Linked DNA regions of Homo sapiens. The protein of the gene in region 5 interacts with the protein of the main gene of each other region in a biochemical or structural test. Each region holds a gene or a part of one and is shown on either strand. Other genes may lie near its edges.

Region 1 (3,500 bases), on a different chromosome or scaffold from region 5:
GCACACACAGCGCACAGCCGCAGTCTGCTTCATGGGCTGACAGAATCAATGCTTGTGTCTGTCTGCTGGAAGACAGGGACCAGGATCCACTCATCAGAGGGGAGTCCACAGTCCCCACAGAGGGCCGGCATGTGTGGGAGGTTAGGAAATGTCAGCACTGCCCTGAAACAAATCAGGCGTGGCCCTTGCCGAGCACCTGGCACATAGTAGGTGCTAAATAAATATTTGTTGAATGGATGAATTGTTAGGTAAGTAGAAATAGATAGATAGGTAGGTAGGTAGGTAGGTAGGTAGGTAGGTAGGTAGATAGATAGAGACAGATAAATAAATGGGTTGACAGATGTGTGGATTGGATGAGTGGATGGGTGAGTTGGTGGATAGATGGATTGGATTGTATAGATGAATTGAATGGATGGTTGAATGGATGGATAGATGGATGGATGGTTGGAATAGATGGATGGACGGATGGATGGATGGATGGATGGATGGATGGATGGATGGATGGACGGACAGACGGACGGACGGTTGGATGGATGGATGGATGGATGGATGAATGGATAGTTGGAATAAATGGATGGATGGATGAATGGATGGATGGATGGGTGGATGGACGGACGGATGGATGGACAGATGGAATGGATGGATGGATGGTTGGAATGGATGGATGGATGGAATGGATGGATGGATGGAATGGATGGATGGATTGTTGAATGGATGGTTGGATGGATGGATGGATGGATGGTTGGAATAGATGGATGGATGGATGGGTGGATGGATGGATGGATGGATGGATGGATGGATGGTTGGAATAGATGGATGGATGGATGGGTGGATGGATGGATGGATGGATGGATGGATAGATGGATAGATGGAAAGGATGGATGGATGGATGGATGGATGGATGGATGGATGGATGGTTGAATGGATGGTTGAATGGATGGTTGGATGGATGGATGGATGGATGGATGGACGGATGGATGGATGTTTGGAATAGATGGATGGATGGATGGATGGATGGATGGATGGATGGATGGAATGGATGGATGGATGGATGGATGGTTGAATGGATGGTTGGATGGATGGATGGATGGATGGATGGATGGATGGATGGATGGTTGAATGGATGGTTGAATGGATGGATGGATGGATGGATGGATGGATGGATGGATGGATGGACGGACGGATGGATGGATGGATGTTTGGAATAGATGGATGGATGGATGATGGATGGATGGAATGGATGGATGTTTGGAATAGATGGATGGATGGATGGAATGGATGGATGGATGGTTGGAATGAATGGATGGATGGATGGTTGGAATGGATGGATGGATGGATGGTTGGAATGGATGGATGGATGGAATGGAAGGAGGGATGGATGGATGGATGGTTGAATGGATGGATAGATGGATGGATGGTTGAATGGGTGGAATGAAAGGATGGATGGTTGTAATAGATGGATGGATGGATGGTTGGAATAGATGGATGGATGGATGGATGGTTGGAATAGACGGATGGATGGATGGTTGGAATAGATGGATGGATGGATGGTTGGAATGGATGAATGGATGGATGGATAGATGATTGGAATAGATGGATGGATGGACGGTTGAATGGATGGATGGATGGATGGATGGATAGTTGAATGGATGGAATGGATGGATGGATGGTTGGAATAGATGAATGGATAGATGGTTGGAAAAGATGGATGGATGGATGGATGGATGGATGGATGGATGGATGGATGGAATGGATGGATGGTTGGAATAGATGGAATGGATGGATGGATGGATGGATGGATGGAATGGATGGATGGTTGGAATAGATGGAATGGATAGATGGATGGATGGATGGATGGTTTGATGGTTGAATGGATGGATGGATGGAATGGATGGATGAATGGAATTGATGGATGGATGGGATGGATGGATGGATTGATGGATAGTTGGAATAGATGGAATGGATGGATGGATGGATGGTCGAATGGATAGTTGAATGGATGGATGCATGGATGGATGGATGGATGGAATGGATGGATGGATGGATGGATGGATGGATGGATGGATGGATGGCTGAATGGATGGTTGAATGGATGGTTGAATGGATGGATGGATGGATGGGTGGATGGATGGATGAATGGATGGATGGATGGATGGAATGGATGGATGGATGGTTGGATGGATGGTTGAATGGATGGATAGGTGGATTAATTGGATGAACTGGATGGATGAATGGATAGATGGATGGACGGAGGCCATTTGAGGGCAGGGCTGAGCCTGGATCATTCATACACAGGCCCTGCACTTAGTAGTTGTTTGGTCATTGGGACCACTGTAGAAAGGAGCACAGCAGAGGCCCAGTGGTGAGCAGGTGCCCGCACCCACACTAAGAAGAAGGCTGAGTCCACAAATCTCTCCCACCCAACAGCTTGGAGTGGAGTAACAATTTGCAGCCACTCCTCAGAGCAGGAGAAAATTACATCTCATACAGTGGCTCCACAAGGAGGCAATCGTGTCCGACAAGAGCCTTCTGGGATGGCAGCTTGACTCCCAACACCAAGAGGGTAGAGAGTGGAAGGTAAAGGTCAGTGATAAAAATTCCAAGGCACCCCTCCTGGTTCTCATGCTGATGCAGGGCCACAGAGCTGCACCCCCCTTTCCTTGGTAGACGTGCTCCCACAGGGCTGAAGAAGTGCCCATTCATTCATTCATTACTTCATTCATTCAACAAATAACTACTGAGCACCTACCATGTGCCAGGCGCTGGCTGACACCAGCTATGAGCAGATATGTGGTCTCTGCCCACGTGGAGCTCATAGGGAATCCCACACATCGTGGCCTCACAAACTGTGCTTAGGGCTTGACGAACAACCTGGGGTATTGACATCTGAGAATGGGACCCCGCTTTCTCCCTCCCAGTCACTTACAACACATTCCAGTCAGCTTTCTCCCTCTTCTCCGCCCAAACTGCCCTTCCCAGGGTCACCCACAATGATCTGGCCACCATCACTTGTGGTACCTGCTATGTGGCGGGCACAGTCCACACTCTCTCCCTCAGGCAGCCTCACCCCTGCCTGCAGCCCCAGCTCCCTCCAAATACTGCAGACCCCAAATCTCCACTTGGTCCTGCCTCCCCCACTGACCTCCAGCCTTACACCTCCAACTGCCCACGTGACGGTTCCATTATAGGTGTCTCATCCCCACACACATCTCCTTAGACCTCTCCTCCCCAAGTCTTCCCCAGCGTGGGGAGCAGCCCCTGAACTCACCAGAGTCACAGTGGCCATGACGCCTCTCTCTCCCTCACCATCCCCCCACCAAGTCCACTGGGTCACCAGGCTTCATCAGCTCTATCTCTAATATGCACCTGGAATCTCCACTTCTCCCCTCTGTTCTGCAAATCCCTAAGGAGCTCAGGGCCCCGGTGGGTGTAGGGCAGGTGGCCCCACCCTGGCTGCTCATAGGGGACAACACGTCTGGCTGAAGGACCTGCAGGAGCCA
Region 2 (3,500 bases), on a different chromosome or scaffold from region 5:
CATTTTACTTGTGTTATCTCATTTGATGCTCACAACAACCTTGTGAGGTAGGTATTATTGTTATCATCATCATCCCCATTTTAAAAGGAGGAAATTGAGGCACAAAGAGATTAGGTAGCATGCCCAAGGTCGCACAACTGAAGATGGTAGGTTTGGAATTTGAACCGAGACAGTCTGACAAGATATATGAGACTAAAGTCAGGAATTTTAAATTGGTTAGGCTTCTTATTTACAAATCATATAATCATAGAACTACAGGATAAAAATAGTTATTTCAGAATATCATAATATCTAAAATTAGTAATTCTGAACCTTTGTCTTGGCAAATGTACCATCAATTAAGACAATTTTTACAAATAAAGGCAGAAACAAAATAGGGATAAGATGCAGAAGAGAATAACAGTCCTACCATATATTTGGTTTAGTATTTTCTTGTGCATAGAAACCAGTCATGAGTTAAATAAGGCCTAAATTTGAGAAGGTTTTTGGTTTCATTATCTAATTTCTATTTTATTCCAAATTATTTTCCCAAACAGAAGAGAACATACTTATTGTTTGTGCCTACATATATAAAAAATGACCTGATAAAAGATATGAGATAGCTAATCAACTTCAGAAATTATTTCAAATTTGTGAATTATGTTTGTAAGTATCTTTTTGGAAGTTCTAACTAGACAATTATCCAACAAAATAATTAAGTGAAATAATCTTTTTTCTTTGAAAACAGCTCTTCAGTTTTGTGTTTGTCATGGACAGATTCTGACAATATATACATGTATGGCTCTGGAAATTTGAAGGTGACTTCATTAATTAATTGTGTTTATTAATTGTGAATATCTCTGAATTGTCTGCATTTGAGAAAATCACAATTGTGCTTTCCAGATCTGTAGGGAAAAATGTCCACATATAAGTCAAATTCTCAGATTGGCCCTTGTTACAATCAATCACTACCTCTTGAACTTAAGAAATAAAAAATATTAAATAAAATCAAAGGAAGATAAATTTCCAAAATTAATACAAACAGAAATACGCTAATTATGTGTTGACATGTTATGTATGTTTCAGATCACCAAGTCAACGGTTCAACTACTTTACCAATCTCCATAAATACGGATGGATAATATAATTCAAGATGCCCTTCTAAAGAGGATTACTTTGGTGAATTCTCTAATGTTTGGATTTCTGAAGTAAAAAGAAAAGCTATTACCAAAGTTTAATGAGGCCACAGCATTTTTTAAAGTTCATATTATTTGCTATTTAAAGTATATATTTTTTTGATATAAAAATATAATTAAAAAATTTTTTTTGGTGGAAGACAGATGATGCTCAAATTTCTTTTCCATTAAGCAGTTGTTTCTGGTGATGAAGAATGATTTGGTAAAGCAGTTAACAAAACATTTTCCAAAGACACCAGAGGGTCTGTATAGTACTGCAAAGCAGGACTGAATCCCTTCTGCTGCAAATACTGGATTCGACCTTGGTCAATCAGCAATTTACAAAGATGCCCTATTTTCTTCTTTTCTTCAACACTAAGAAGCCTAAATTGAATAAACACACACAAAACATTGTTAAAATTTTGCAAAAGTTTATAAAAAATTATTTTTGTCACTATTTATTGAGAGACTGTTAACTAACCCATAATGTACTAAGTACTTTGTCCCATGCTTCCAAGACACATTATATTTATGACCACAATAAAAGATGTGTATATTTTAGCTTATTCTAAAATTAGATTATAAAATACATTTTCATGAATTGTTGATAATAGTCATCTAAAGTACAGTACAATATAATATTTCTCCTTTAGTATCATGCATTACAAAAGTAGTCTCTTACCCAGGCAAACAATCAGCGCCATCATCTGTGATTCTGTATCCTCCATCATCATGCTCTTCACTATCATCATTCTGATTATCTTGCCTCTTTGTGGTACTATTTGAGGTTTCCAAAGATGTTTTCCGCATCCCACAAGTTGCCCAACTACTCATTCGCTGGAAATAATGGAATTCCACTGCTCCAAGGCCTAGAGCCCTGAAATATTCTTTGCCCACATAATGTCTCCAATCACACCTGTGGTGACAACAGAGTGCAATAACAATGCCAGCCACAGGGTTCCACTTCTCTGGGACATTTTTTTCATTTCCTTCCTTGGCCAAAGTGTAAATTTCTTTTTCTGTTTTATCATTCTTTATGCGTTTGGCTAAAGGTTCTTCATTCCTTTCCTCAAAACTGGCAGCATAGGTTTCAACCAAACATCGTAATGCAAGATCTGCAAACACAATTATGTGGCCCCCCCAAACCACATCATCTTTAAAAATAAATACTTTTTACATTTATTAAGCAGTACTGTTTTTAAAAACTCAACAATAAAAACAGCAAAAACCTACTCAGCTTTATATTTGTAATAATACTATCATGAATTATCAACTTCATTCAAATTTGCTCTTCTATCTTCTCAATTTCTTTAATGATTTATTCTGCATAAAGCCTACTTCCCAATAAAGCTATCTGAAGCTTAAGATCTACAATTTGAAGAACTTTTACCCAACTACCTGAATTGTCTCTCACTTTTCCTACCTTAGCTGAGGAAATGACTTGTATGGGAAAACTTTATTCACCTACACTTACATTCTAGTTTAAGAAAGGAAAAATGAAGGAAGGAAGGAAGGGAGGGAGGAAGGGCAGACAAATCTGTTTAGGTTGATGCTAGGTCAAGATGCTTGTCTTGAAGAGGCTCATAGCAAATAGTGATGAACTGAAGAGTTGAAAAGAGGGCGTCAGAACAGAATCTGGAAAGCAGGCCTCACTGAGTAGCCTTACTGTATTTATTCATTTATTTAACAAACATTTACTGAATGCCTTTCATGTGCAAAGCACTGAGGATACAATTATTAATATACACAAACTTAAGAGGCAGATGTACTCCACATTACAATGAAAATATTTTAGTATATTTTAAAACTAAATAAATGGATTTTTGATGACTATGGCTATTTCCCATCGAAAACTCCTACACTGTTGACAATACTGGAAAGACCCAAAATGTAGGACCCATATCTTCTTAATCATTAGATTGTCATGTTGTGTCTGTTCAATCAAAAACATATACATATTTTAAAATTTTATTACCCTAAGATATCACAAATGACTATTAAATGATCTGATATTTCACTAGTAAATTTAATTCAATATATGAATTTAAGTCAACAAACATTAGAAACCCATTATTTGCAGAAAGTGATAGCTAATCTATTATTTCATAAACTATTATTTTCTGACAAAATACATTTAGTCATTGTTTTATTCATATTTGACTTAAGTAAGTGATTTTCAGAAATGTGAATAACCAGATAAATTATTAAAAGAATTAAGTTATTTCAGGCCAGGCGCAGTAGCTCACGCCGGCTGAGGTGGGCAGATCACGAGGTCAGGAGATGGAGACCTTCCTGGCTAACACGGTGAAATCCCGTCTCTACTAAAAATACAAAAATTAGCCGGGC
Region 3 (2,849 bases), on a different chromosome or scaffold from region 5:
TATTTCTTTATAGCTGAGTTTTCCCTTCTGTATCAAAACAAAATAATACAAAAAATGCTTTTAGAGTTTAAGCAATGGTTGAAATTTGTAGGTACTATCTGTCTTATTTTGTGTGTGTTTAGAGGTGTTCTAAAGACCCGTGGTAACAGGGCAAGTTTTCTACGTTTTTAAGAGCCCTTAGAACGTGGGTATTTTTTTTCTTGAGAAAAGCTAATGCACCTACAGATGGCCCCCAACATTCTCTTCCTTTTGCTTCTAGTCAACCTTAATGGGCTGTTACAGAAACTAGTTCGTGTTTATATACTATTTCCTTTGATGTCCTATAAGTCGGAAAAGAAAGGGGCAAAGAGAACCTATTATTTGCCAGTTTTTAAGCAGAGCTCAATCTATGCCAGCTCTCTGGCATCTGGGGTTCCTGACTGATACCAGCAGTTGAAGGAAGAGAGTGCATGGCACCTGGTGTGTAACGACACAATCAGCACAACTGGAGAGAGGCATTAAAGAACCAGGGAAGGTAGTTTGATTTTTCATTGAATTCTACAAGCTAATATTGTTCCACGTATGTAGTCTTAGACCAATAGCTGTAACTATCAGCTGCAATACCATGGTGACCAGCTGTTACAAAAGATTTTTTCCTGTTTTATCTGAAACATACTGGATTTATATATGTATAAGCGCCTCAATGGGGAATTAGAGCCAGATGTTATGATTTGTTTGCTCTTTTTCTTTTATAGTTTAGTTATAGCAAAAATATGGATAATTTCTAGTGAATGCATAAATTAGGTTGCGTTTCTTATTTTGCTTTAAATCTCTGGTAGTTTTTCCACCCCTGTGACACAATCCTAATAGACAGTGTCCTGTAAATGGACACAACACAATAAAGTCAAGTTATTATTGCTGTTACTCTGGATGATATGGAAAACACTGCCATATTTTAAATCAACTACTCCACGTGTTTTTCCATCCAATCACACTGCTGTGATTCAGGGATCTTTCTTCTAAGACGGACACATTTGAACCTCAGGTTCATCACAAACCTGGTACCTGTTGCTTCCCAGAGGATGGAGAAGTGTAGTTAATCACACCTCTTAGTTTAATCTGAAATCTTGACCCAGTTATTTAACAAATAAATACCTCATTGATTATATTTAAAAGTAATACACTTCCTGTAAACAAATGGGGACAATGCATCCAAAAAATCTTTTTAAACAGATTACACAAAAATTATTTCCAGAAAGGCTACCATTTATCATCATTATATTTCAAGCCTCTTATACTTAATAAGCACTTTCTAAAAAGTCTTGAGATCCCACCATTCTGAGGAATTCAATATGATCACTTTTTCCTTCTTTGCCTGGGAGAGGTTAAGAGGAGGTTTCGAAGGTATAGATGCTATTGTTCTGATGGCCCGGCTGAATAAAATGGAAATTCTAGTTTGTTAGAATTATGCATTCTTTTTCAAGATTCTCAGTGTGCCTAACTTATTGGAGCACATCAGTTTCTTGGGTAATGGAAAACATTACCTAGAGTTGCCAGTGGCACATTACACCAGTACAGAGCACATTCCAAAGGAGACATTGGACCAGTTAATTCCCATACAAGTCAAGGTAACAGAACAAAAGGGAATCCTGATGCCCTTTTACCATTGCTGGTTGAGCTCAGGCACTGTCATGGACACCCTTAATTTTAAAAGGTTTTAATCATTCTTCTATAAAATACATTTAAAATGGAAAAATACTTAATATCACTAAATATCAGAACAATGTAACATTTACAAATGACATATTGAAAGCAAAGGCTGTTTTATTTAGCCAAGATGATTACCATTAGGAGTTACTTTATGTATTGTTGAAAGCAAATTTTAAACATGATGTTTTAGAAGTGTTTCTGATTTTTAAACCTGGTTTACAGGTATTACTTCTGCACTTACCAAATAATGCCAGATGGAAATTTATTATTTCTTGCAATTCCCATGATAGCTCTGTTCTTTATGCATTGTCTCAACACTTTCCCTTTTTTCCCAAAATGAGTAGAGAATTAAAGCCACCCAAAACAGCTTCTGCTACTAAAATGTTCTCATCCTTTCTCCTCCCTCTCCTTTTCCTGCCACAAAAGGTGAAAAATGAGATCCAATCCTCTCACCAAAATTTCAAACCTAGGACACTGGAATGACTGCAGGGATCAGTGGTTCTCCCATATCACCATCAATTAAGACATATAGGACACTGTCTTCCTTCAAGAGGGTTACAATGTGGCCATCAGACAGGAAACCAAACGGTGGATAAAGTATTAAGTAACTAAGTGCCAAATAAATGCTGGAAATCTTGACCTCTCCTTGGGATTATGGGTGTAACAAAAATCCCTACATCTGTTTATGAAGGCCATATTCAGTACATTTTAAATGGTAAATAATCTGTTTATGTGAAGAAAAAGAATTAAGTCTTTCTTCCAACTCTCTCCTTGGATAGCCTAGCACAGTGCAGCCTCCATAACCATGACATTCCCGCCCAAGCTCTCAGTGCCTAATCCTGCTTTGTCATTCACATCTCACAAAATCTTGACATCTTACATTCCAATACATTATCAAGCAAGCACAAGTATGCTGGTAGTAGCCTCTTTAAATAATATGTATAGACAACAACAACGACAAAAAATAGACTGTTTTAAAGTTTCAGGGAAAGTTGGTGGCTGATTTAAAGTTGTGCAGGAAACATCTTCTGTGTATGAAGCAAATGTCGATGTTTTGAAAAAAGCTAGGAGATGACTTTGAATGAATGCAAGGTTAGTGAGATCCTAAGCTCTCAAAATAGCATATTCCCTAGAGCTCAAGAAAGCTGGTCCAGGAGGTT
Region 4 (3,500 bases), about 19 Mb from region 5:
AAACCTTCTAAATCCAACAATCTTACCTGCTGGTTTGGTCTGACATCACTGAAAGTTATTTTTTTCCCCAAGTCTCGAATCACTGCGTTCTTAGTTTCACGAATGTTATCATCATTCACTGGTTGAGGAGACTTTGTATTTTTCTTCGCTAATCCCTGGGATGGCCTGTAAGATAAATCCACACCTGACACACCCATGAAAAGCACTGGCCAGGGTAAAAAGGCCTAGAAATCAGAGTGGTTGAAATGACAACCAGAAACCAGCGGTCATTAGGCACTTAGGGAATTAAGCCCTGTGCAGAGAATCGGTATTTGTAAAGGTCTTTTTGATACTTTAATTTAAAAAATTTTTTTTTTGAGACAGAGTCTCTGTCATCCAGGCTGGAGTGCAGTGGTGTGATCTCGGCTCACTGCAACCTCCGCCTCTTGGGTTCAATGATTCTCCTGCCTCAGCCTCCTGAGTAGCTGGGATTACAGGCATGCACCAACACGCCCAGCTAATTTTTTGTGCTTCTCCTAGAGACGGGGGTTTCACCATGTTGCCCAGGCTGCTGTCAAACACCAGAACTCAAGTGATCTGCCTTCCTCGGCCTCCCAAAGTGCTGGGATTACAGGCATGAGTTACCACACCTAGCCTGATATTTTAATTATTAATAATCATTCAAAGTAATCATCCCCTTTGTCCTGAAGTGTTCCACATCCATTCTGTGCCTAAGAGAATAAGATTATCTAGGAATCCACAAAATGAGAGCCCTGTTTCAGATCAAGCTATTCAATGTGCACATCGACTCTTAACTAGCATCTTACATCAAGAAACCTCAATGACACTTACATGGATGGTGCACTTCTAGGCAGCCCCATGGCATTTGTGGGTGGGATGGCAGGGAGAGAAGGCAGAACAGAGCTGAGGAAAGCCACTGGGTTCTGAATCCGGCTGGTAGGAGAGACAGGAATTGGGGACACACAGCGGGGCTGAAACTGGTTTCCGCTGGGGATGGAAAATGTGAATGGTGGTGGTGTTGGTTCTGTTGGGCCTGGTGGGAGTGGCTCATTTTGGATGGAAAGCCCTCCTGGAGATTTGGTTTGCACAGAGGGGTGAGACACTAAGAGGCTTTCTTTGCTCACTGTCCTCTGAATAGTTTGAGGAGTGCTGCTCAAAGTGAACACCGGAGAGCTGGAAGGGGCCACAGTTGCTGCGGTGGTGTTCGTGGAGGGGAAGAAATACTTCGGCCGGGCCAAGCTGAACGTCTGTGATGAAGGAGCCTTCACCTGCTTACTGGATGTTGTCACCGCTGGGGGAGCATTGGAGTTCAAAACAGTCATGCTGAAAGGAAACTCCTTAGGAGATGAAGGAGGTGGGTTTTGCAATTGGTGTTGTTCCAGTAAGACTTGGTTATGAAGCTGTTGTAACTGAGTGGAATCACTGTACACAAAACAAGGGTGGAGAGAGAGAAGGAAATGTGTTATTATTGGCCTCACCTTTCAAACAATGTTCAGACAGACTGTTTATAACTTGATGATAGGCGGGGCATGGTGGCTCATGCCTGTAATCCCAGCACTTTGGGAGGCGGAGACAGGTGGATCACTTGAGTCCAGGAGTTTGAGACCAGCCTGGGCAACATGGTGAAACCCCGTCTCTAACAAAAAAAAAAAAAATTATATATACATATATATTAGCCAGACATGGTGGTGCACGCCTGTAGCCCCAGCTACTCAGGAGGCTGTGGTGGGAGGATTGCTTTAGTGATCCCAGGAGGATCCCAGGAAGATCACTTGAGATCCCAGGCTTGAGCCTGGAGGCGGAGATTGCAGTGAGTCCTGATCTTGCCACCTCACTCCAGCTTCAGTGACAGAGTGAGACTCATCTCAATAAATAAATAAATAAATAAATAAATAAATAAATAAATAAATAAAATAACTTGATGTTGATAAAGAACACACAACCAGAGTGGCAAGAAATCAGCTGATCAATAATTGGTGAGTTTGTCTTTCCTTCTTTCCAAGGGCGTCCTTCACACTGTATTCTTTGTATTGCGACCTTGGAGTTGTGCAACAAAGAGTTTATAAATTGGAAAAGAGAAATAGAGACAATGTTTCTCTTGTAGGCAGTGCTCAAAGTTCTGATGACCAGAGGAAAGTATCCCAGCTTCAGAACAGAAGGCACTGAGCTACATGCCAGTGTGAGTTACTGAAAAGGGCTGAATTCTCCATGAGAACATGCTGTATTCTCCACTCTGCCTTGTTTTAGAGCCGACCTTAACAAAGAAGCCGGATGTGTCTCAGAGAGGTTTCTCATTCTCTCGCGATAACAAACCTTTATAGATAAGGTGACCATATGTCCCCATACATTCAGGAAGGTCCTGGTTTAACATCTTTTCCTGGCATCATTATTTTTGTTTTTGTTTTTCTTTTTTTTGAGACAGAGTCTCACTCTGTTGCCCAGGCTGGAGTGCAGTAGTGCGATCTTGGCTCACTGCAACCTCTGCCTCCTGGGTTCAAGTGATTCTTGTGCTTCAGCCTCCCAAGTAGCTGGGACCACAGGTGTCTGCCACCATGCCCGGCTAATTTTTGTATTTTTAGTAGAGACAGGGTTTCACCATTTTGGCCAGGCTGGTCTTGAACTCCTGACCTCAAATGATCTGCCCGTCTTGGCCTCCCAAACTGGTGGGATTACAGGCGCGAGCCACCGTGCCCGGCCCTGACATCATTATTAATAGAACTCACTTTCACTCTCAGAAATGTCCTAATTTGAATGATGATTATATGCTCACCCTGATTATAAACCTTGCCTTAGACTTTTATTGTTCCTAAAAGGAGAAAGATCAAACTGGAAGCAGTTTCTCCATTTATAGAACCTGAGTCACAGAGGCATCACGTGATTTGCCTTAATGGTCCATTGAATTCAATGGTCTATTGAATTTCTCTTCACAAAAGAGTTATTTTTTAACAAAGAAAGTGCAACAAAAATGTCTTAAAATCATATATGCATAAAGTCATTAAGGCTGTCAAACTTTGATGTTTAGGAGAATCTACTGTTGAATGAGTAACCACGGGAAGACCCATAAGTGAGATCACAGTGCTTCAGGACCACTAATTATATGTTCTTTATTCTATTTTTATTTATTTAATTATTTTAGGCAGAGTCTTACTCTGTCACCTAGGCTGGAGTACAGTGGCACAATCACGGCTCACTGTAGCCCCAACCTCCTGAGTTCAAGTGATCCTCCTGCCTTAGCCTCCCAAGTAGCTGGGACCACAGGTGCGTGCCTCCACACCCAGCAATTTTTTATATTTTTTGTAGAGTTGGGGGTCTCGTCATGTTGCCCAGGCTGGTCTCAAACTCCTGAGCTCAAGCAATTTGCCCGCCTTGGCCTCCAAAAGTGCTAGAATTACAGGCAAGCGCCTTGCTGGTTTTATGTTCTTTGGAAATATGTGTTGCTTTTGGGACACAAAGACTCTGCATTATAAGGAATATAAAAGAAATTATTAAGGATTTTGAAT
Region 5 (3,500 bases):
AGCTTCACCCACATACCTCATGCCATTCCTCCCAGCTCCCTGGGAGAGTGGGTGTCACACAGGTATGGCAGCTAAGGCTCAGAGAGGTAAGACCAGATGGCAAGCCAGAAGGACCCGAGGCTTTCTCCCTACACCTGCCTCCTACCCCCATCTCTCCCAACCAGGGCTCAGACTGTGGGCAAGCACCCCACACACACGCCCTTCCAGTGCCCCAGTGCAGGGGCACAGCTGGACCATACCGGATGACATTGTTGCAGTGACCGCAGAGTGGAGTCCGGCTGCTGGCTGGGAATCGCTCAGCCCTCTGGACGGTCCCCCTGGCAAGTGGTGGCACCTGAGGACCCGCTGGGGTGTAGGCTGGGCCTCCCCGGGGCAGGGTCTGCTTGCTGATGGAGGTGGTGCTCTTGCCCGGGGCAAACTTCTGGGAGAAGCTATCATCTGTCACCCAGGGTGGACGGCTGGCAGGCTCCGCAGGGCCCCCGCTGTAGGCCACCGAGGGTGCAGGGTTATAGTTGGGGGCAGGTGAGGGGGTATAGGCTGGTGCTGGGGATGGAGTGTAGGTGGGGACAGGTGAGGGGGTGTAGGCAGGGGCAGGGGAGGGGGTGTAGGCAGGGGCAGGGGAGGGGGTGTAGGGAGTGGGACTGTAATTGGCCCCTGGGGACGGGCTGTAGGTAGATGCAGGCACTGCAAAAGCCAAAAAAAACCCAAAGAAAGGTGTGTCAGGAATTCATTCTTCCCAGTTCCCCTCACTCCTAGCCAGAGAAATGCAAAAGGTGACTTTAACATTAGAGCAGTACAATTTCAGTTTTTTTGGGAGACTTGTTCCTGAACTTCTTGATGGCCCAGATTTGAATTCTCAGCAGGGTGTTCACAGAGCTAGGGAGCAAGCACAGCAGAACCCTCGACAGGGCTGGAAAAGGGACATGGCTATAAATATTTGCAGCTGTGCAGGGTGGGGCTCCGCCAGGCCTTGACTGCCCAAGGCCTGCATAAGACGCAGAGTGGGGGTGGGGGTACCTGGGCGGGGAGAGGTGGGAGTGGGTCACCTCGCCTTTGACTGCAAGATGCTTTCAGTTGCACTCTGACCAGTGATTTGACATCTGAAATACCTCCCTTGGCATAAGTTTGCTGAACCTGGACCTAGGTCAGCCCTCAGGACAAAACAGGTGACCTGGTAGCTGGGTTTTCAGGTTCAGGTTTCAGGTTTAGCTACAATTACTTTCTTGAAAAACAGCTTGGCTTGATTTGTATTGGGGGGCAATTCCGTCTTGGTTTGATTAGGGTGGGGGATCTTGAAGGAGTCATTCAGAGGGTGCTGGGCAGAGACTCTAGGGTGACACAGCCTAGAAGTAGCTGCTCACTTGGCCCGTGGCTGCCTTGGGGGACCCCTGTACTCCCACATCGCTTTGGTGGAAGCTGAGAGTGTGTCTGAGTGACTGTCTAAAGATTGCCCAGGCAGTCAGAGCACAGGGAAGAGAATGCACCACCTCACTTCTATCACCCCCTCCTCCAGCTCCCTGAGAGCAGAAAAACGTTTTGGGCTCACAGCACAGAAAAAGCATTGCCACTGCTTACCCACAGCCCTCTCCCGCCTGGGCCCTCAACACCTAGCCAGGGCAGACCCAGCTGCACCCTGCAGGCAAGGTCCAGCTGGCTTCCTCTTCCAGTGAGTGAGGTTCCAGAAGCCTCACCACATTTCAGTCTGCTCCTCAGCAAAGAGGCCTCATTCCCCCAACCCTAGGAAGCATGTCAGCACAGCCTCCCTCCCCATTCCTGAGCTCAGTATGGGCAGGATGGACTGCATTGAGGCAGTCCCTGCACCCACACCCCGCCTCTGCCCCCCACCCCATACTCCAGCCTCAACCTGGAGAGGAAGGTTTTCCTTAGGGCCTAAGACCCTGGCCCCATCTCCAGTCTCTCTTTCCCACCTGGTTCCCCTGGACCGCCTGGGGCAGCCTGTGGCTCCCACTCTGCACCTTCCACTCCCAGGTGACCCACCCTTCAGAGCTGGGTGAGCTGGAAATCCCTGTGCTGGGGGTGAGTAGGGACCAGGTAGATAGGATCCATCCATGTTGTTGAAGGAAGAAGAGATAAAACCCTCCACAGCCCTGCCCTGGAGCCATCCTGCCAGTGAGGCCTTCAAAAGATAATACCGGTTGGGCATGGTGGCTCACGCCTGTAATCCCAGCACTTTGGGAGGCTGAGGTGGGCAGATCATGAGGTCAGGAGATCGAGACCATCCTGGCTAATGTGGTGAAACCCCATCTCTACTAAAAAAATACAAAAAATTAGCTGGGTGTGGTGGCGGGTGCCTGTAGTCCCAGCTACTCAGGAGGCTGAGGCAGGAGAATGGCGTGAACCCAGGAGGCGGAGCTTGCAGTGACCCGAGATCGTACCACTGCACTCCAGCCTGGGCAACAGAGCAAGACTCCATCTCAAAAAAAAAAAAAAAAAAAAGATAATACCTTCTCCATAAGGAATCTTCCTCCCCTTTAGGGGTAACGAGGCACATAGCATCTGTCATCTGAATCGGTCTTCACATTATTCCCTCTTTACACTTGAGGTCACTGAGGCTCAGACAGAGCTAGTAAGTGGGAATACATCTCCAAATCCATTCATTCTATCATCCCAAGCTGCCTCTGTAAAGAATATGAGTCCAATTTCTAGAAAATCTCAGTGCAACATGTCAGGGAGGAGTCATTTTCAACATGAAGGAGACCCCCTGCTGTGGAGTCTTGATAGCATAGCCAAGAGCCCTGGCTGCAGGATCCAGCTCTACTACCTCCTGGTTTTGTGTCCTTGGGCAAGTTCCTTAACCTCTCTGGGCCTCAATTTCTTCATCTAAAACTGGCAATACTGATTCTTAGTATCTCACAAGGTTATTATGAGGATTAAGGGAAGGTAAGAAATATAAAGAGCGTAGCCTAGTACCTGGCATAGTGTGTCACTAAATGTGAGTGAGGATGGCAAGGATGGGGGCAACCTGGGTGTCAGGGTCAGATGTACTGTCAGCCTGTCTCATGGCCTGCTGCTCACCTAGGGAAGCCCAGCCCAGTTAGACTGGTAGCGCCTAGGGTTGGGGGAGAGGAGGGAAGGGAAATGGAACATCCTGAAGTCAGATAACCTGAGACTGAGGTCTATTCAGTGGTGGTGGAATGCCTGACACCCTGCCTGCCCCACAGGGCATGCTGGGGACCTGCTGGGGTGACATAGTGAATGGATTTTGTAAATGTGTACAGCCCAAATTTGAGGTATTGTCACCCTCCCTAACAACTTTGCAGAGAATATCAAAATGCTGGGGGAAGAAGTGATTCCAGGAACACCACCAGGGACAGAGAGCAGGGAGAGGTGATCTAGCACAACTTCAGAGCAGCTTCATCCCTCTGTTATATATAAGGGGGTTCTGTGCAACATTTTCTTTCCTTTCTTTGTGAAGTGCAATTCTCTGCTAAAAAAGATTAAGATTGGCTGGGCGCGGTGGCTCACGCCTGTAATCCCAG
Region 6 (3,500 bases), on a different chromosome or scaffold from region 5:
ATCAAAGAGGCAGTTATCCCCACCGCTTGCTGCAAATGGAGATTGTGATGGGAACTTGCTGTCCCAGTGGAAGTGATACTGCTAGAGGGCATCCGGCCACACTAGAGAGGGCCTGGGCTTTGCAATCAGCTTATGGAGAGGCAGTGTAGCACAGTCAGGAGCTTGGCCTCTGGAGCTTGATAGCATGGATTCAAATCGCACACCTGCCTTTCACTTGCGGCCTCAGGCAAGCCATTCAACTTCTCTTTATCTCAGTTTCCCCAACTATATAATAGTATAATCACGATAATAATATTGCTTGAGAACTCAATGACTTGATACATGTAAAGCATCTAGAATAGTACCTGGTGCCCAGTAGACACTGAGATGCTAGTTACTGTCATGTTATTCAAATTCTGGCTCTGCCACTTGCTAGATGTGTGACCTCTCTGAGCCTTGGCTTTCTCAGCTTCCTCAGCTGTAAAATGGGAGATCCTATTATAACTTATCCCATACAATTGGTAAGTGAAATAATTTGACAATGAATGAAAAACAAGCTGGTATGAAGGACGTGAGTGCATGCTGATTTCAGTCTTCACAGCACTGAACAGGAGACAATTAGTTCACCAACCTCGTCCAGGGGCATTAGGAGCAGGATCTCAGCCCTACTTCAGATAGCTACCACCACAAGTACCTGAGTCATCAGAGCGATGGCATCTTAACCCATGCTGCAAGTTTTTCCCATTTCTTGAGGGGGGTGGAGTAGGAGTGGAAGGTTCAGATGATGGGCAGAAATGGGCATGTGGTGTCTCCTAGGCAGCCATCCACGTGTCGGAATGCCTAGTATCTAAGCAGACCTGCTTAGCTGGTCTAACAAGCATTAGGAACCCAAGGTATCCCTCCCTCAGAGTACAAAAAATAGAGGCATGGTGTAGGCACAGCCTCACCCGCATGCATTACTGCTGCCAATTGCTGCAACCTGCAAATCGTACCTCCATCTCTTATAGAGCTGCTGGTCCTGGGCTGACACCGCTGCAGCCGTCATCTCCTCACTTCCCCCGCCCCACTCACCCCCAATCTCAGCCCCCTTTGTCTACTGTCTATCTGTGAGTCCTTCTTCCAGCAAAAGTCTCTCAAGCTAAGCCAAAATGTCCCTTTAAGAGATGATAACTCACTTATAAGATGATTACAATCTGGCAGTCACTGCTCTGAGTCTTAAATGTGTTACATCACTTAATCCCCACAACCAACTTATGAAGTAGGTGTTGTTACTACCCCCATGCTTTTAGATGGGAAAGCTTAGGCATTGTAAGTTCGGGGGAAGAAATTCAAAACCAGGCAGTCTGGTTCCAGCTTCGGTGCCCTTAAAACCATTATTTTATATTTCCTCTCCTCTTTTTTTCAACATTATGAATATATTCAAACATACAAAAATGTTGAAAGAAGTTCACAGTGATCACCCATATACCCAGCACCTAGATTCTACAATTAACATTTTGATATATTTGCCTTATCATATATCCATTTACTCCTCTATCCATCTACCAATCCATCTTAAAATCCTGGTGCATTTTAAAGTAAGTTGAAAACAACTATATCCCCATAAATTTTAAAATGTAAATGAAATGGACAAATTTCTTGAAAGACACAAACTACTAAAGCTTACTCAAGGAGAAATAGATGACCTAAATGTCCCCAAATCTATTAAAGAAATTGAATTTGTAGTTAAAAAGCTTTCTACCAAAAAACCTCCAGGCCCAGATGGCTTCAGTGATGAATTCAAGCAAACATTTAAGGAAGACATTTTATACAAACTCTTCCTGAAAATAAAAGAGAAGGGAATACATCCCAACTCATTTTTTAAGGCTAGCATTACCTTGATACAAACAAACAAAAAAAACAAAAAACAGAAAAAGATGTTATAATAAAACTATAGACTAAAATCCCTGATAAACATAAGGGCAAAATCCTTAACAAAATATTAGCAAATCTAGTAACATATAAAAGGATAATACATCATGACCAAGTGGGATTTATCCTGGCAATGCTAGGCTTCTATTTATTTTAAAAATCAATCAATGTCATTCACCACATCAGTAGACTAAAAGAGAAAAACTATATGATCATCTCAACAGATACAGAAAAAGCATTTGAAAAAAAATACAACATCCACTTCTGATGAAAACTCTCAGTAAACTAAGAATAAAAGAGATTTTCCTCAATTAAAGGGCACCTACAAAAAAATCCTACAGCTAACATCAAACTTTATAGTCAAAGATTAAGAAAAAAGCTACAATGTCCACTCTTACCATTTCCTCCAAACATTGTATTGAAGGTGAGAGTGCAATAAGGCTCTTCTCTCTCCCAGAAAAGGGCATGTACAGGAGAAAGGAAGACACTAAATTCTATTTGGAGATGGCATGATTGTGTATGTAGAAAATGTTTTATAATCCACCAAAAAGCTATTAGAACTAATAAGTGAGTTTGGCAAGGTTGCAGGATACAATGTCAATACACAAAATTCAATTATATTTCTATAGACTAGTAATCAAGAATTTCAACTTGACATTAAGAAAATAATACTCTTTATAATAGCATCTAAAAACATAAAATCTTAGGGACAAATATCCCTGGTGGTTGGGTGGCTAGGATTCGGCGCTTTCATAAAATCTCAGGGACAAATATAACAAAATATGTACAAGATTTGTATGCTGAAAACATAAGTTGAATACAGCAGTATACTTCAAACACACTTCAGCATACATATTAAATAAAGTTTAATATTTGTTTACAACATTTTTAGGCAAAATTTACTTCCAGTGAAATGCACAAATACTAAGTGCATTGGCTGTCTAGGAGCCTTGCTATACATTTGTTGAGTTCTGACAGGTACATATGTTTAACTCAAACTCTTACCAAGATATAGAACATTGTCACCACCCCACAAGTTCCCTCTGCCCTTTTCCAGTCAATCTCTGTGCCACCTCCCATTGGCGAGCAGTGTTCTGAATTTGTTCCCCCATAGAATAGCTGTTTTAGAATTTCATATAAAAGGAATTGTAGAGTTCATAGTCTTTTGTGTAAGGCTTCTATCACCCTTGAAGTTCCTTTTTACCAAGGATATATATTGAGCAAATTCAGATACTAAGTCATTTCAAAAGTGTCTGTGTATGCAACAGCTGAACACAGGAATTAACTTCTGGTTTGAATGCACCGGCCAAAAGATGGCATCAGGGATGCCATGGGGAAGTAATCTGGCAGTGAGTAGGCAAGGACCTAGGGAGTCCTCCCAGAAGTAGCCTGGGGGATGGTGGTAGCTTGTGTTATGGTAATAGGTCATAACCGGGATATAAGAGCAGCCAGTTTAGACCTGGGTCTCCAACAGAGACAGGATGGAGAAAGGGGAAAGGATTTGTCTTTTTAAAAACCCAACAAGTCAGATCTCTGAAAGCAAAGCCTGGGGATATTTGCAAGTTTTGCATCTCTAAATACTTCTGAAGTAGAAAATGGGAGGCAATAAG
Region 7 (3,500 bases), on a different chromosome or scaffold from region 5:
CTGGACCACGCGGCGGACATTCTGGAATTGCAGCACGCTCTTGTTGGATTCGGTGAGGAAAATGGTGACATAGTATGGCAGAATGGCCAACAAGTCAATGGCATTGAGTGGGCCCTTGAAGAACTTCCACTTCTTGGGCGAGGAGAGGAACCTCAGCAGGTACTCCATGGTGAACCATGCGATGCACACGGCCTCCACGTGGGCCAGCTGGGGGTTGTCTGTGGACTGGCCGAACTCATCGAGGCTCTGTAGCTCAGGCAGCGTGTTGAGGGACAGGGCAATGGTGGAGAGGACGATGAACATGATGGAAATTATGGCAAGGATCTGTGAGGAGAAGAGAGTGGGATTTAGTTATCAACCACCCCACAGGATGATCATCATAATATCCTGGATCTACAGGGCACTCCTCAATGTTCAAGAGCATTTTCACATTTCACTAGTCATTTAATGAGCCAAAAAGAGAATTTGTTGTAATCCATTTATTGTCTAGATGTGGAAACCAAGGCCCAGAGAAATGAAATGTTTTAAAGCTATCAGCAAGCCCAGGGTTCAAGCATACTTTTTCAGATAGTAACCATTTTATAGGCCCTGAAACCCTGCATTGTCTGTCACAACGACTCGACTCTGCAGCTGTAGCATAAAACCAACCTTGGATAATACATACATGAATGGGCATAGCTGTGTTTCAATAAAACTTTATTTACAAAAATAGGCAGTGGACTGAATTTGGCCTGTGAACCATGATTTGCTGACTTCTGATCTAGACCAGTGGCTCACACTGGATGGGGAACTACCTTCACAGAGATGATACTAATGATAATAACTATCCTTGATTGAGTGTTCATTGTGTGCTAGGCACTTTCCATGAAATAGCTCATTTCATTCTTATAATAACCCCGTTCAGTGCTATTAGCTCCATTGAACAGATGCGGACACTTGGGTTTCCACAGCTAGTAAGTGGAAGAGCCAGCATTTTAACCCAGGTCTGTGTGACCCAAGAACATGAGCTCTTAAGGCTGTGTTAAAAATCAGATTTGGCTGGGTATGGTGCCTCATGTCTGTAATCCCAGCACTTTGGGAGACCTAGGCAGGAGGATCGTTTGAGGCCAGGAGTTCGAGTCTAGCCTGGGCAACATAGTGAGACTCTGTCTCTATAGAAGAACAAAGGGGAAAAAAATCAGATGAAAGCTAACCTTTTGCTAGAAAAATGCCTAGACACTCAAGATTTTGCAGGTAATTCCTAGGGAGGCACAGACATTCTGGGCCCATGTTAACTCCTGATTGGAACTATGTGCTTTTGGGGGCTAAAGACCTTGGCTTAACTACCTTTGAGTCCCCTGGATCAAGAAGAGAGCTTGGCCCAGAGAAAGGGCTCAATGGATATATGTTGAAATTAATGGAATCTAGGCCAGTAGGCCAGTCTACAGACTATGCAGAAAAGCAAACAGATGTAATCAATTGCTCTGAGGGTCTTTTTTTTTTTTTTCAAAAATACAAATCCAATCACATTACTCCTTTGTTTAATAAATCTCCAGGGCTCCTCATGAAAAAATCCAAACCCCTAAACCTGTCTATTGGGTCCCCTATACCTGTCTTGCTTTTGTAGATTTTCCCTTTCTCTTCCTCTGCCCCTGCTAAGTGGGAAGGGGGGGGCCTGGTCACCATGGTTGTATCATTTGATCCTGCCTGCCAATGATCAGAGCATGAAGTTTGGATAAAAAAATCCAAGTTAAGCCAATCCGTACACTGGGGCTTAGCCAGCCTACCTTTGAGAAATTTGAGTTCAGGAACCCAGGCGGTGAGTGGGTTACGGGAGGGTAAGTCCCTGAATTAAATGTTAAGTAGAATCTAGGCTTGAATCAGCTTCATGATAAGCCCAACCCTCAAGCAACTGTCTCCCAAATGTAGGGGACAGAGATGCCATAAAAACATCAGAGAAAGCTGAGCCTTAGCCTAGACATGGTGGCTTACATTTGTAATCCCAACACTTTGGGAGGCTAAGGTGGGGGGATTGCTTGAGCCCAGGAGTTCGAGACCAGCCTGGGCAACACAGTGAGACCCCGTCTCTACAAAAAATAAAAAAATCTGCTGGGTGTATTGGCACATGTCTATAGTCCCAGCTACTTGGAAGGCTGAGGCGGGAGAATCTCTTGAGCCCAAGGAGGTTGAGGCTGTGGTGAGCCATGACCACACCACTGCACTCCAGCCTGGGTGACAGAGAGAGAAACCCTGTCTTGAAAGAAAACAAAAGAAAAGAAAAAGGAAAAAAAAAAAAGAAACGAAATTAGCCGGGCATAGTGGCGGCACCTGTATTCCCAGCTACTTGGCAGGTGAGGCAGGAGAATGGCTTGAACCCGGCAGGCAGAGGTTGCAGTGAGCCGAGATTGCACGACTGCGCTCCAGCCTGGGCGACAGAGTGAGATTCCATCTCAAAAAACAAACAAACAAACAAACAAACAAACGAAAGAAAAAGACAAAGAAAGCTGAACCTTCAAGAGAAGCCAGAGAATGAAGGGAAGGTGCAGATGAAGGAGGAGTGGGGACCGCAGGAGGGTCATAGCAGGGTGCCGAGGGCAGCAGTTAAGAGCTGAGGCTCTGGTGTCAGCCTGTTTGAGGTTCAAGCCTCAGCTCTGCCATTTCCTTACATTGAGCATGTTATTTAACCTCTCTAAGCCCCAGTTTCCTCATCTAGCAAATGGGCTGATAATAACAGTATCTACCTCAGAGAACTGCTGTGAAGATGAAATGTGTTAGCACAGGCAAAGTGCTAGGACAGCTTCCAGCAGCACACGGTGAGTGTCTAATAGATGCCAGCTGTCATCACAGGGGAAATCTCAGCCCACATCACCCCACCCACTCAGATCACCAGCCTCGGGGTGGCCCGGTCTCGGTCTTTGCCTCCTGTCCTTGTTCTGAGACTGTCTGCTGTATCCTGTAAGTCAACCCAATTGCTACATGGGTGAGTGTGGGAGGTTTCTGGCCCTGCAATGAATCCCCAGTAAGGACACTTGGTTGTCAAGTCCTTCTCATTTTGACTCTGACCTCTCTCTCTGGCCACTCCTGCCATCGGTTCTCAAAATTCACACTCCTCTAGCCGCACACTATCATTGGTCAATTCTGCATGTCCGAGCTTCTTGCTTGCTGTCTGGTGAACTCCAATCCATCTTTTCAAATCCAGCCCATGTGACCCCTTCCCTTTGGAGTTCTCCCTGCTTTCCCCAGGCAGGGTTGACTGCTCCATCCTTGGGTTTCCTCACCATTTTACCATACCTTGGGGATACTTACCACTCATATCCCATCACAGGTGCGTGCGTGTGTGTGTGTGCATGCGTGTGTGTGTGTGCACGTGAGTGAGTGTGCTTATTGCTGCCCAGAATTGGTGAGTACTGGGAGGATGGGGATGGGTTCTGAGGTTTATCTATGTGCCCCCAGCACCTAACCCAGGGTGGGACACCTGACAGGTGCTCACCAAGTATTTGTTGGCCGTTGCTCAAGTTCAT

The links.
Region 1: the proteins of LDB3 (region 5) and SLC22A12 interact in a test that uses a peptide from one of them, tested with the Homo sapiens proteins (one large-scale study listed by IntAct).
Region 2: the proteins of LDB3 (region 5) and TRMT13 interact in a test that uses a peptide from one of them, tested with the Homo sapiens proteins (one large-scale study listed by IntAct).
Region 3: the proteins of LDB3 (region 5) and CNTNAP2 interact in a test that uses a peptide from one of them, tested with the Homo sapiens proteins (one large-scale study listed by IntAct).
Region 4: the proteins of LDB3 (region 5) and MYPN interact in a test that uses a peptide from one of them, tested with the Homo sapiens proteins (one large-scale study listed by IntAct).
Region 6: the proteins of LDB3 (region 5) and SHROOM4 interact in a test that uses a peptide from one of them, tested with the Homo sapiens proteins (one large-scale study listed by IntAct).
Region 7: the proteins of LDB3 (region 5) and KCNB1 interact in a test that uses a peptide from one of them, tested with the Homo sapiens proteins (one large-scale study listed by IntAct).

What each region holds. Positions count from the first base shown.
Region 1 is NC_000011.10:64,594,220-64,597,719, forward strand, and holds part of SLC22A12 (solute carrier family 22 member 12), read left to right. Parts: intron 1-3,500. UniProt on the Homo sapiens protein: Electroneutral antiporter that translocates urate across the apical membrane of proximal tubular cells in exchange for monovalent organic or inorganic anions. Involved in renal reabsorption of urate and helps maintaining blood levels of uric acid.
Region 2 is NC_000001.11:100,146,663-100,150,162, reverse strand, and holds part of TRMT13 (tRNA:m(4)X modification enzyme TRM13 homolog), read right to left. Parts: coding exon of another isoform or gene 3,491-3,500; exon of another isoform or gene 2,270-3,490; coding exon 1,837-2,269; exon of another isoform or gene 1,539-1,836; coding exon 1,343-1,538; 3' UTR 1,122-1,342; coding exon of another isoform or gene 1,066-1,121; 3' UTR 796-1,065; coding exon of another isoform or gene 728-795; 3' UTR 1-727. Other genes in the region: LRRC39 (leucine-rich repeat-containing protein 39), read left to right, coding at 728-795. UniProt on the Homo sapiens protein: tRNA methylase which 2'-O-methylates cytidine(4) in tRNA(Pro) and tRNA(Gly)(GCC), and adenosine(4) in tRNA(His).
Region 3 is NC_000007.14:148,415,801-148,418,649, forward strand, and holds part of CNTNAP2 (contactin-associated protein-like 2 precursor), read left to right. Parts: 3' UTR 1-2,849. UniProt on the Homo sapiens protein: Required for gap junction formation. Required, with CNTNAP1, for radial and longitudinal organization of myelinated axons.
Region 4 is NC_000010.11:68,171,988-68,175,487, reverse strand, and holds part of MYPN (myopalladin), read right to left. Parts: intron 1,423-3,500; coding exon 832-1,422; intron 166-831; coding exon 27-165; intron 1-26. UniProt on the Homo sapiens protein: Component of the sarcomere that tethers together nebulin (skeletal muscle) and nebulette (cardiac muscle) to alpha-actinin, at the Z lines.
Region 5 is NC_000010.11:86,713,511-86,717,010, reverse strand, and holds part of LDB3 (LIM domain-binding protein 3), read right to left. Parts: intron 685-3,500; coding exon 240-684; intron 1-239. UniProt on the Homo sapiens protein: May function as an adapter in striated muscle to couple protein kinase C-mediated signaling via its LIM domains to the cytoskeleton.
Region 6 is NC_000023.11:50,629,195-50,632,694, forward strand, and holds part of SHROOM4 (protein Shroom4), read right to left. Parts: intron 1-3,500. UniProt on the Homo sapiens protein: Probable regulator of cytoskeletal architecture that plays an important role in development. May regulate cellular and cytoskeletal architecture by modulating the spatial distribution of myosin II.
Region 7 is NC_000020.11:49,374,669-49,378,168, forward strand, and holds part of KCNB1 (potassium voltage-gated channel subfamily B member 1), read right to left. Parts: intron 325-3,500; coding exon 1-324. UniProt on the Homo sapiens protein: Voltage-gated potassium channel that mediates transmembrane potassium transport in excitable membranes, primarily in the brain, but also in the pancreas and cardiovascular system.